Regions from separate parts of the Homo sapiens genome. Here region 2 is linked to region 1. Evidence: fine-mapped expression QTL. A gene starts in region 1. The other region holds a variant in brackets. All regions are shown on one strand. Distances are from middle to middle. Region 1 holds the start of BICDL2 (BICD family like cargo adaptor 2). Region 2 holds the start of CCNF (cyclin F).

The links. PIP is the estimated chance that this variant, and not a neighbour inherited with it, causes the effect.
Region 2: its variant is fine-mapped to the expression of BICDL2 in minor salivary gland (GTEx, PIP above 0.99).

The regions. Positions count from the first base shown.
Region 1 is chr16:3,034,419-3,039,779 of GRCh38, reverse strand. It overlaps BICDL2 (BICD family like cargo adaptor 2), which reads left to right and starts at 2,836. Exons shown (of 10, transcript NM_001369667.1): 1 at 2,836-2,886; 2 at 4,254-4,565. The coding sequence starts at 4,284. LOC100128770 (a long non-coding RNA gene) reads right to left here. Exons shown (of 8, transcript NR_047572.1): 3 at 4,786-4,882; 4 at 2,820-4,442; 5 at 2,385-2,501; 6 at 2,074-2,150; 7 at 1,768-1,945; 8 at 647-1,472. RefSeq lists an enhancer at 1,239-2,126.
Region 2 is chr16:2,427,629-2,432,989 of GRCh38, reverse strand. CCNF (cyclin F) reads right to left here and starts at 3,543. Exons shown (of 17, transcript NM_001761.3): 1 at 3,493-3,543; 2 at 1,706-1,860; 3 at 1-29. The coding sequence starts at 3,508. RefSeq lists silencers at 3,168-3,217, 3,228-4,077 and enhancers at 4,288-4,467, 3,903-4,482. The variant C/T (reference allele first, on the strand shown) is at 2,548.

The sequences.
Region 1 (5,361 bases):
TGCTATGTACCCACAGACAAATGACTTAGCCTCTCTGAGCTGGGCTCCTCACCTGTGAATGGCGTGACCTCATAGGGTTGCTCTGAGGATGAAATAGAGTATGACATGCAGGTGAGTCATCTCTGGTGGCCGCGCGGAGATCACCAGCAAGGACTAAGTGCTGGCACTTCACACTCATTTAATCCTCACACCTGGCCAGGCACGGTGGCTCACACCAGTAATCCCAGCACTCTGGGAGGCTGAGGCGGGCAGATCACCTGAGGTCAGTTGAAGACCATCCTGGGCAACACAGTGAAACCCTGTCTCTACTAAAAATACAAAAATTAGCCAGGTGTGGTGGCACACGCCTGTAATCCCAGCTACTTAGGAGGCTGAGGCAGGAGAATCGCTTGAAACCGGGAGGCAGAGGTTGCGGTGAGGCGAGATCTCACCACCGCACTCCAGCCTGGGGGAGAGAGCGAGACTCCATCTCAAAAAAAATCCTCACATCCCTATAAGCTAGGAACTATCATCCCCATTTTACAGATGGGGAAACTGAGGGCCGCAGAGGTTAATCAGCTGAAGGGCATAGGCACCCACATCTGGTATGTGGCCAACTGGATCCTGGACCGAAGCTATGTGATGCCAGCACCCATGGGCCAAGCACTTTGCTGTACTGTTTTATTGGTTCATTTCTGGTTTATAGGTCTACGCTCCCTCCCATGGCCCAGGTGGACTGTGAACCTTCTGGGAGTAGGGCTGTAATCACTTCATCCTGGGATGAGCTCAGCCTGGCAGGAGGCGCTCAAGATGTGCTACGTGTGGGTGTGAGTGGGGCCCAGGGTGACTGGCATTTGGAGGGGACACTGAGCTTCTATTTCCAGAGGGTCACATAGCAGCACCCAGGGGAGGCTGGGATGTCTTCAGTCCTCCAGTGGCTACCAGGCTGCTCCCACAGGTGCAGTGGGAGAAAGTGTCAGGCTTGCTGGGCAATGTGGCTGTAAGACAAATCTCTGGCTCCCCTACTCTCTGCTGGCAGAAAACCCTGTCCCAGCCCCAGGACCCAGGAGTCCCAGTTCCTAAGTCACCCCTCCAAGGAGTCCTTGCTCCCCTTTTCCCACAAGCCAGGAGTCCCAGCCCCCACCCTCCTCCTATTTTTCTAGAACCCAAGTAAGTAGCCCCCAGTCCCCCAAGACTCAGGAGTCCTGATCCCCAGCCAGAGGTGCACGGACCCAGCTGACACCAGCCAGCCAGAGCTGATGTGCACAGCCCCTTCTACCTCTGCACTCCGTGACGCCAGGTGAGTAGCTGGAAGTCAGCCGAGGAGCAGGTATTGCATCATGGATATTGGCAAATGCAACGAGCGAGGGCTATTGTTTTAGCCGGGGAGCCTGTTGTTAAACGCTTACCAGCACGCCACTGCTCCCAGCCTTCCATCTGTCCTGCTCTCCAGGCCAGGAGCCCCTGTCACGAGGCCCAGGGAGCCCTGGAGTCTGGAGATAAATCGTGACAAGACACAAGGCCATGGATGGGGCATCACTGCTGCCCAAGCCACCCTGGGTCCCCAGCCCCGGACCTTCCCATCTCCACACCAAAGCCCCTGTCCCAGACAAGAGCACGGTCCCCAGCTCTGCATAACTGAGGAACTGAGAACCCCAGGTGTGGAGCCACACGGACTCGGGCATGGCTCTGGGCAAGTCACTCTCACTGCCTGGGCTACAGTGTCCTTGTCTGCGGCATGGGAATCAGTAAAGAGCATGACCCTAAAGCCACACTTGTGCTGTTCACCTTCCAGTTCTGACCAGGGGACCCCAAACAAGGTGGAGGACCCCCCTCCGCCTCCGAGCCTCAGCTTCCTCATCTGTAAGATGGGGATGACAGCAGTTCCTCGTCATCAGGTCATCATGAAAGTCAACAAGTTGAGCCGGGGAGGTGGCTCACTCTGTAATCCCAGCACTTTGGGAGGCTGAGGTGGGCGGATCACGAGGTCAGGAGTTTGAGACCAGCCTGGCCAAAACATTGAAACACCATTTCTACTAAAAATACAAAATTAGCTGGATGTAGTGGTGCATGCCTATAGTACCCGCTACTCACCAGGCTGAGACAGGAGAATCACTTGAACCCGGGAGCGGAGGCTGCTGTGAGCTGAGATGGCACCACTGTACTCCAGCCTGGGCAAGAAGAGTAAAATTCCATCTCAAAAAAAAAAAAAAAGGTCAACAAGTTATGCCTATAAAAGAGTTTACTTGACCAGAAGCAGAGGCTCATGCCTGTAATCCCAGCACTTTGGGAGGCCGAAGCGGGAGGATTGCTTGAATCCAGAAGTTTGAGACCAGCCTGGGCAACATGGTGAAACCCCACCCCTACAAAAAGTACAAAAATTAGCTGGGCATGGTGGCATGTACCTGCAGTCCCAGCTACGGGGGAGGCTGTGGTGGGAGGATCGCTTGAGCCTGGGAGGACGAGACTGCAGTGATGGTGCCACTGCACTCCAGCCTGCGTGACAGAGCAAAATCCCATCTCTAAAAAATAAAAAAGAGTTTACTTAGCAGAATGCTTAAGATGTCAGATTCGGTGTTGTTGTCATTGCTAATAATTTCCTGCCCCACAGGGCAAGGCAGTCGTGACGGGAAAGGAGCGGAGGCTACCTCAATGTAGGATCTGCAAACAGTAGATGCTCAGTTAACTGGCCGGGCCATTTGCAACCACAGCAGGTTGGGCCAGTGCCCCCCACCCAGGTGGAAGCGACTCTCCCTCGACCCCGCCCGGCCATTCAGGCAGCCAGGGAGCGCCCCGGCCCCTCCCGCGGCCCCGCCCCTTCACCTGTGTTGGCCGCACACCTGGAGCCGCCTCCGGAAGAGGGGACCGGAGACCGCGGGGACCTCGGAGGGAGCCCGGCGGCTTCGGGTGAGAGCCTGGGGGACGCCGAGGGCCGGGCCCCTCGAGCCTGGGGAGGGCCTGGTCCGGCCGCGTCGGCGGAGAAGGTGGGGGAGCCGGGGCGGGGGCAGGGGAACCGGGATCGCCGGGGAACCGGGGGCGCCGGCAGGAACTCAGCCGTCGGGGGTGAGCCCAGCCGCTTCTCTGGGCTTCCGACGCCTGGGGCTGGAGGCCCCAACACCTGGGCAGCTAGGTGCGGAAGGGGAGGGGGAGCGGTCTCCAGGTCCCTGTCTCTCGCGTGGAGGGGGGCGGGGGAGCGGGGCCCGCGAGGGCCAAGTCAGGGAGGTCCCCGGGAGCGGCCTGGGGGCGGCTGGGCTGGGACCACCGTGACACTCACGTCCTGCGAGCAGGGCTGCACATGGACACCGGGCGAGAGGAGGAGGGAGAGCACGGGTGTGTGTGCCTAGTGGGTGGTGAGCCCCCGGAGGGCTGGGGCTGGTAAAGCTGTTGTGTCGGGCCCTCTGACCCGAGCCCCTGAACCCCAGCCCCTGAGCCGCCCTAGGGGAGCCCAGGGCTCCCGTCCCCAGGGGCGGACCGGGAAGTAAACAGAAACTCCGAGCCGCGCTGCGGCCGGGCGGCCGGCACAACCTGTTACCTCGCCCTGTCCTGGGCCCCACGCCAGGGCCCTGGGAAACTGGGGGGCTGAGGGTCAGGGCTCCTGAGTCCGGAGGGGTGGGGGCATGAATGCCTGAGTCCCGTGGAAAATGGGGACTGGGGTGGGAATCCTTGGTGGGGGACATTGGAGGTGGGGACCTCTGAGTCTGGAGGGTGGAGTCAAAGCACCTGCTCAGGAGGTAGCAGGAGAATGAGGGCGAGAGACCCGGGAGGTCAGGGGCTGGGATCTGGGCTTCTGGCAGGGGAAGGAGCTGGATTCCTGGGGGCGAAGATACCTCAGTTCCCAAGCCTTAGGGTCCTGCATTCCTGAGAGAAGAGGCTGGGCCCAACTCCAACTGCTGAGTCCCTGAGAACCTGGGTTCTGGGAACTGTCTCAGATGGCGAGGGGCTACAAGCCAAACTGCTGGGTTCTGGGAAGAGAGGGGACAGGGAGCAGAGGTGGCCTGTGGCCCTGGAGCACTGGAATGAGCTTTCCTGGGGACAGAGATTGTCTGGCAGAGGCCAAAGGCTGGGCAGGTCATTTCCTTCTGCTTCCTGCCTCAGTTTACCCCAGGGACATTAACGGAACTGGGTAGCCAAAACACAGGTCATTAACCCTTTGTGGCCCAGGAAGCCCTGGCTGCAGGACCGGGCAGGCTGGCAGCAGGTGGAGAATTCCTGGAGGGCCAGGTGCTGGGCGGAGGGTGAGCCCCTGTCAGGCTGCAGAGTAGAGTGTCCCGCAGCCACCTGTCCCCGCAGATGCTGCAGGTGACATGAGCTCTCCAGATGGGCCCAGCTTCCCGTCCGGGCCGCTCTCAGGGGGCGCCTCTCCCAGCGGCGACGAGGGCTTCTTCCCCTTTGTGCTGGAGCGGCGGGACTCATTCCTGGGAGGGGGCCCAGGGCCTGAGGAGCCCGAGGACCTAGCCTTGCAGCTGCAGCAGAAGGAGAAAGACCTGCTGTTGGCCGCGGAGCTCGGCAAGATGCTTCTGGAGCGAAATGAAGAGCTGCGGCGGCAGCTGGAGACGCTGAGCGCCCAGCACTTGGAGCGTGAGGAAGTGAGCTAGCACTGGACGGGGTGGGTGGGTGGGTGGGCAGGGGAGGACGGGTGGGCCTGGAGAGGACAAGGGAAGGGAGTCAGGCAAGGGAAGGAGAGAGGAGCTGGGGAGGACAGCCGGGCGAGGGGGGCACTTTGGAACAGGTCAGAGCTGGGCCCAGTCCCCCTGGCAGTGTTGCCCAGTGGCAAAGAACATGAACTCTGGGTGCCGGGCACAGTACCTCACACCTGTAATCCCAGCACTTTGGGAGGCCAAGGCAGGAAGATCACTAGCCCAGTGTTGGAGAACAGCCTGGGCAACGTAGTGAGACTCTGTCTCTACAAAAAATAAGAAAATTAGCTGGATGTGGTGGTGGCACCTGTAGTCTCAGCTACTCAGGAGGCCGAGGCAGGGGGATCAATTGAGCCCAGGAATTTTAGAGTTTGAGGCTGCAGTAAGCTATGATTCTATGATCCACTGCACTACAGCTTGAGCAACAGAGTGAGATCCTGAAAAAAAAAAAAGGAAGGAAGGAAGGAAGGGGAAGGAAGGAAGGAAGGAAGGAAGGAAGGAAGGAGAGAGAAAGAAAAGAAAAAAAGGAAAGGAAAGGAAAGGAAAAAAGGCATGAACTCTGAGGATTAAGACCTGGATTCAGGCCAGGCATGGTGGCTCACACCTGTAATCCCAGCACTTTGGGAGGCTGAGGTGGCTGGATCACTTGAGGTCGGGACTTCAAGACCAGCCTGGCCAACATGGTGAAACCCCGTCTCTACTAAAAATACAAAAAAAATTAGCCAGGCATGATGGGGTGTGCCTG
Region 2 (5,361 bases), 610 kb after region 1:
TCCACCAGGTCCTTCAGCTGGGAGTGTACCTGCAGAACAACGGGGGCCGGGGCTGGGTGATGGAGGCACCACCCAAAAGCCCCACACCTGGAGGCTCTTGAGGACGAGAGGCAGATGTAGGGTCTCCTGTCTCCCTCGCCATCCCAAGTAGTTGAGGTCCCCAATCTCTGTGTGAAAGTAACTGTCACTTTGAGCAGATAAAAGAGCCCAGAAACGAGTTTCTCTGAGGTTCTAAAGCAGGGCAGAGGACAATGATCTGGGAAGGAGGAAACAAACACCTAGGCTGAGAAAGAGGGTTCAACATCCCTGCAAAGGTATCACCCCCAAAGACAGGGGAAACACTCTAAAAGGGGGCAGGCAGGACGGAAATGTGTTTTGTGCTTCCCCGCTGGAGGCCTTGCTAGTGGGAGTGTGGAAACAGGTCACAGGGACTCAGGGCAAAGAACAACACCCATGATGGAGGTCTCAGGTAGAACCCGGAGCCTAAGCGCTGGGCCAACGCAGGAGTGTCCAGGCCAGGACCTGGAGCACAGGTGAACACTTTAAGCACCAAAGTTTCCACTGCCATTGGAAATTCAGCACCCCCTGGGGTCCATAAAGTGTGTCGCACCTGCAATGGAGGTGGCTTTGGGAGTCAGAAAATGGGTTCTTGCTGGCATTTCCCCATGAATCCACTATATACTCTAGGTTAAGTCACTCAAAGTAAGCCTATGGTTCCAATATCTAGAAAATAACTCCTAGAGTCCATTTCAGTGTTAAATGTTACATGGAATTTGTCCTCAAGAATGTATTCTTATTCTTTTAAACACTATCCTATTTTTTAAGGGATGCAAATTTCACTGCCATAAAAGGGTACTTTCAGCCGGGTGCAGTGGCTCATGCCTGTAATCCCAGCACTTTGGGAGGCCGAGGCGGGCGGATCACGAGGTCAAGAGATAGAGACCATCCTGGCTAACACAGTGAAACCCCAACTCTACTAAAAATACAATAAATTAGCCGGGCGTGGTGGCGGGTGCCTGTAGTCCCAGCTACTCGGAAGGCTGAGGTAGGAGAATGGCATGAACCTGGGAGGCGGAACTTGCAGTGAGCCGAGATTGCGCTACTGCACTCCAGCCTGGGTGGCAGAGCGAGACTCTGTCTCAAAAAAAAAAAAGGTACTTTCTTTGTTGACACTGCAATGAACAGAGGCAATTTTAGTGTGCTAGGAGACAGCAGTAGGAATTTCTGTAATCAGAATGTCTTAAAGAAAGCATCTGGTAATGATATCATCCTTGTTTCCTTTTTGCCCTCCTTTTTTTTTTTTTTTTTTTGAGACAGAGTCTCGCTCTGTCGCCCAGGCTGGAGTGCAATGATGTGATCTCGGCTCACTGCAAGCTCTGCCTCCCAGGTTCAAGCAATTTTCCCGCCTCAGCCTCCCTAGTAGCTGGGATTACAGGCGTGAGACACCACGCCCGGCTAATTTTTGTATTTTTAGTAGAGATGGGGGTTTTGCCAAGTTGGCCAGGCTGGTCTGGAACTCCTGACCTCAGGTGATCCACCCCCCTTCGGCCTCCCAAAGTGCTAGGATTAAGGCATGAGCCACCGTGCCTGGCCTCTGCCCCAACCTCTTTTTTAGCCAAAGTTTTGTTCTGACAGTTAAGAACACAAGGCCTGATGGTATAATCAACAATGCTAGGGCTCATAGTGTTTTCATGCAGGGACTTACAGCTCGGACGGCCAGGATGTCCTCTACAGAAAGCCATTTCAGGATGTGAAAGAGCACATCTTCGGGGAGACTCAAGATGGTCAGGTTTCGGGGCCTCCTCCTTATTCTTCGCTTTGTAGGATAACAGAAACACTTGGCACACCTACAGTGGACCACTGAAGGAAAAAAAGACAGAAGCCTTGATAAGATGAAAAATTATTCTATATACACACCCTTGAAGGGAAAAAAAAAGGATAAAAGTTACATCTGAAGATGATCTAATGGTTACTATTCCCTGTGCCACAAAAGATGGAACTATGCTTCTTGTCCCAAACAAAGATTATGTAAAGGAGTGGCATTGCACAAATTACAGAAGAGATCATTCATTTTCAAATATTCAACAAATATTTATGGCAAATAGCGCATGTCATGTAACTTGGCTATTGGGAAACTTTCTGATCCAGAGCCCACATGACAGGCAGGAAGGGGAAAAAGCTGCCGAAGCTGAGGACGGTTTTCCTTCTATTTCACTCTCAGGAAAACTCCTGGGGCCTTTGCTGGATAGCTTTGCTTTTTGCACACGTGACCAAGGTGCATAATGTTCAATAAAGATCTGTGGGCTTGAAGAGTCTGGTTTTCAAGTCCAAATTAGAAGGGTCGGCCCTGGAGAGAAGCCACAGACTTGGAGGCCGGGGCAGTGTGCGTCCAAGTCTCAGCTCTGCAGAGTCTCAGTGTGCCCTCTATTGTAGAATGCGGAGTTGACAGCTACGCAGTAAGGTTGTTGCTCAGGTCCCAACACAAACCTAGACCTGTAGGTTTGTGTACAGATGCAATCATTAAAGGTGAGACGGGCATTCCACCCA[C/T]CAGGCAGGCAGCCCGGACATGCTTCTCAGATGTGCTCTCTCCTCTTCCCACAGCCGGATTTTCCAACTCCTACTCCAGCAACCCCTTCCTCACTCTAAGCAGATGACCTTAGCCCTTATTTCACAGGGAAACAGAAGCCCTCAGACAGGAACCTCAGGATCCTGCCTCCCCATCTACAAATCTACCTTTCTATCCATCCTTCCTTCCAGTCCTGAAAGGAAGCGCCACTCCCCTCTGTGGGCCCAAATCCCTCCCCGCCTTGCTAGGACTTCCTAGCGATTGCTCCCGGCTCCCCTCTCTTGACCGGGGTCTTCCTGTTAGCAATTAAATCAGCTGCAAAAGCCAAACGTATTCCAGGGCGACGAATTCTCAAAGATTCTATAGACCTCTCCATAAAATATTCCTCATTCTCCGGCTCCAGGACAGATACTATGATAATAGCTGAAACCACAGTTCGTGTTTCCTGTGCCTCAACGCGCGCGGGGCCGAACGCTGCTTTCCACAGAGCTAGGTCCACGGCCCCGCTGGACTGAGGCTCGGTCAGGGCCCGGCCGGGCTGCGGGATCGCTTCGCCCCCACGCGCTCCGCAGCCCTTTCCCCGACCAGGAGGCGCTGGTGTTTGGCTCCCCGAGACCCGATCGCCGCCCCGGGACCCGATCGCCGGATCGCTGCCCCGGGACCCGATCGTTGCCCCAGGAAAGGGCCGGAAAACGTCGCCGCGGGGGAAGGCTCCGAGGGGCTCGGGCGCCCGCCGGGCATTTAAACCGCGCGCCCGGCCGCCGGGGCTCCCTGCGCGGGACGCGACATCCGCCCCGGGTTAAAGAGCTCGAGCCAGCCCTCTTCAGGCCGCCAGGGCCTCCCCTCCCGCGGGACCCACCGTCCGCCCCGCAGGGCAGGCAGAAGGGGTGTGGGGCAGAAACCAGCGGACATCGCCCCGCACTCACCGCCGCCGCTCCCCATCGCCGCGCTCGCGTCGCTGCCGCCGGAGCCCGCCTGAGAGCGCGCCCGCGCCCCGGCCGGAGCGCGCGTAGCCCTCGCGCAGGCGCAGACCCCGCCCCGCCGCCCACCCCAGTTTTCAAACGCACCCGGCCCTCCCATTGGCCTGCCCGGGGGGGCCGCCGCCGGCCCCGCCCATGTCCCGCCCTGTGCTCGCCTCATTTACCGCCCTCCACGCCCTCCCCGCCTGCTCCGGGACCCGCCATTGGCCGCGCCAGGACGCGAATTCGAACATTGGCCGCTGATTGGTGGAACCCGCGTGGCCGCCCCGCCTCCCCAACGGGGCTGGGGTCCCGTAGGAGCGCTTCCCGGCCGGCGGGCAGGGGTTTGTGGGCGTCCCCTCCCGGCCGCATGGGTTCGGGCTTCGCCGCTGACCCCGGCGACCGGCATCTGCGGTGCCAGATGGGCTGCGAAGGCGCACGCCTGCGGCCAGGGGAAAGAGGACTCCTTGGCGTCCCTCGCAGTCGCGGCCGTGATCCAGCCTGGGACAGCCTCGACGTGGCGCTTCTAAGACGAGGCCGTGCCCTGCCCGGGTCCCGGGGTCGCTCCTGGGCCCGCGACCCTCACCCCCAGCTTGCACGGCCTTCCCTTCCGCCGCCTGCTTCAGGTGGAGACCCTTGGGTTTGTGGCTGAGCCGCTGCTGGGCGGGGATGCTGGCCGGGATCGTGGTAGAGAAAGAGGAGGTCGGAGCTGACGCTGGGAAGTCTCCCCCGCGGAACGCTGACCCCTTCTTCCCGCGAAACGTGGCGCACCCTGGACGCCTCAGTGCTCCAGCCCCGGGGCAAGCCCTCCCCATCACTTTGGCCAGATGCTGCCCCCTGTCTGGCCTCCTCGGCTGCTACCTGGAGCTGCTCGCCGCGGGAAGTGTCGTATCTGCTCACTCTTGTCTTGGGCAGTGCCCATCTGAGCTGTCCTTCAGGAGTCAGCCACACCGCACCCCTTTTACGGCACAGGCTGTCAAGGGGAAGACTCGCAGCCTCCTGACTGTCTGGTGGAGGACAGAGGGGGCTTTTCCTGGGGAAGGCAGGGGCCTGGGCCAAGGCTGCCCACCCCTCCCTCACGCTTCCCTCAGTCTGCACCCTTCCATCCTTCCGGGTCCCCATAGAACTCCTTCAAGTACTGGGCCTGCCCTGGGCACACAGACAGGAGCCCTGGCGTGCAGGCTTCAGCCGGCCTGGGGCAAGAGACAGAGTAAACAGGTGATCACAGCACAGGGTACAGAAGAGTCCGTGGCCCCAGAGAGGGTCTGGAAGTTGGGAATATTCCCTGTCCCGGAATCAGGAAGCGGGTGAAGGAGGGTGAAGAGAGGACAGGCTGAGCGAGTTTGGGGCCTGCTCCCCAGATGTCCCATGTTCTCAGCCCCCAGATTTATTATCCCCTTATCTCACTTTTGTCCTCCTGGGTTACTGTTTCCTACTTTGTCACTGTTACCTGTCTCCCCCTAGGGCAGAGGTGCACTTTCAGGGTTAGCTTCCATAGCATCTTGAAGGGATTAATCAACTAGAGCCAGCCATGAGCACATTAGCCACACCAGCTGCCTCTAGAATCTAGAACAGCATCCTTGGTCCCTAGGTTGTTGTTTAGCTCTATCCTGTGCTTTGTGTCCTGATCACTCTCCTTTCAACATGGACAGGCAAATTTCTTTTTCAGGGAGCAGGAGTTGTCTTGACTGCAGCCATGCCTGCTCTCGCCCCACACCCTGCACTGGCAGTGGGAGCCTCCAGGGCTGCCCTGGGGTGATAAGTGGCTCCTCCAGGGTGTGGGCCCGTTTCCCACTGGGCTTCAGGAAGGTGAGACCTTGTTGGAAAAGTCTAAAC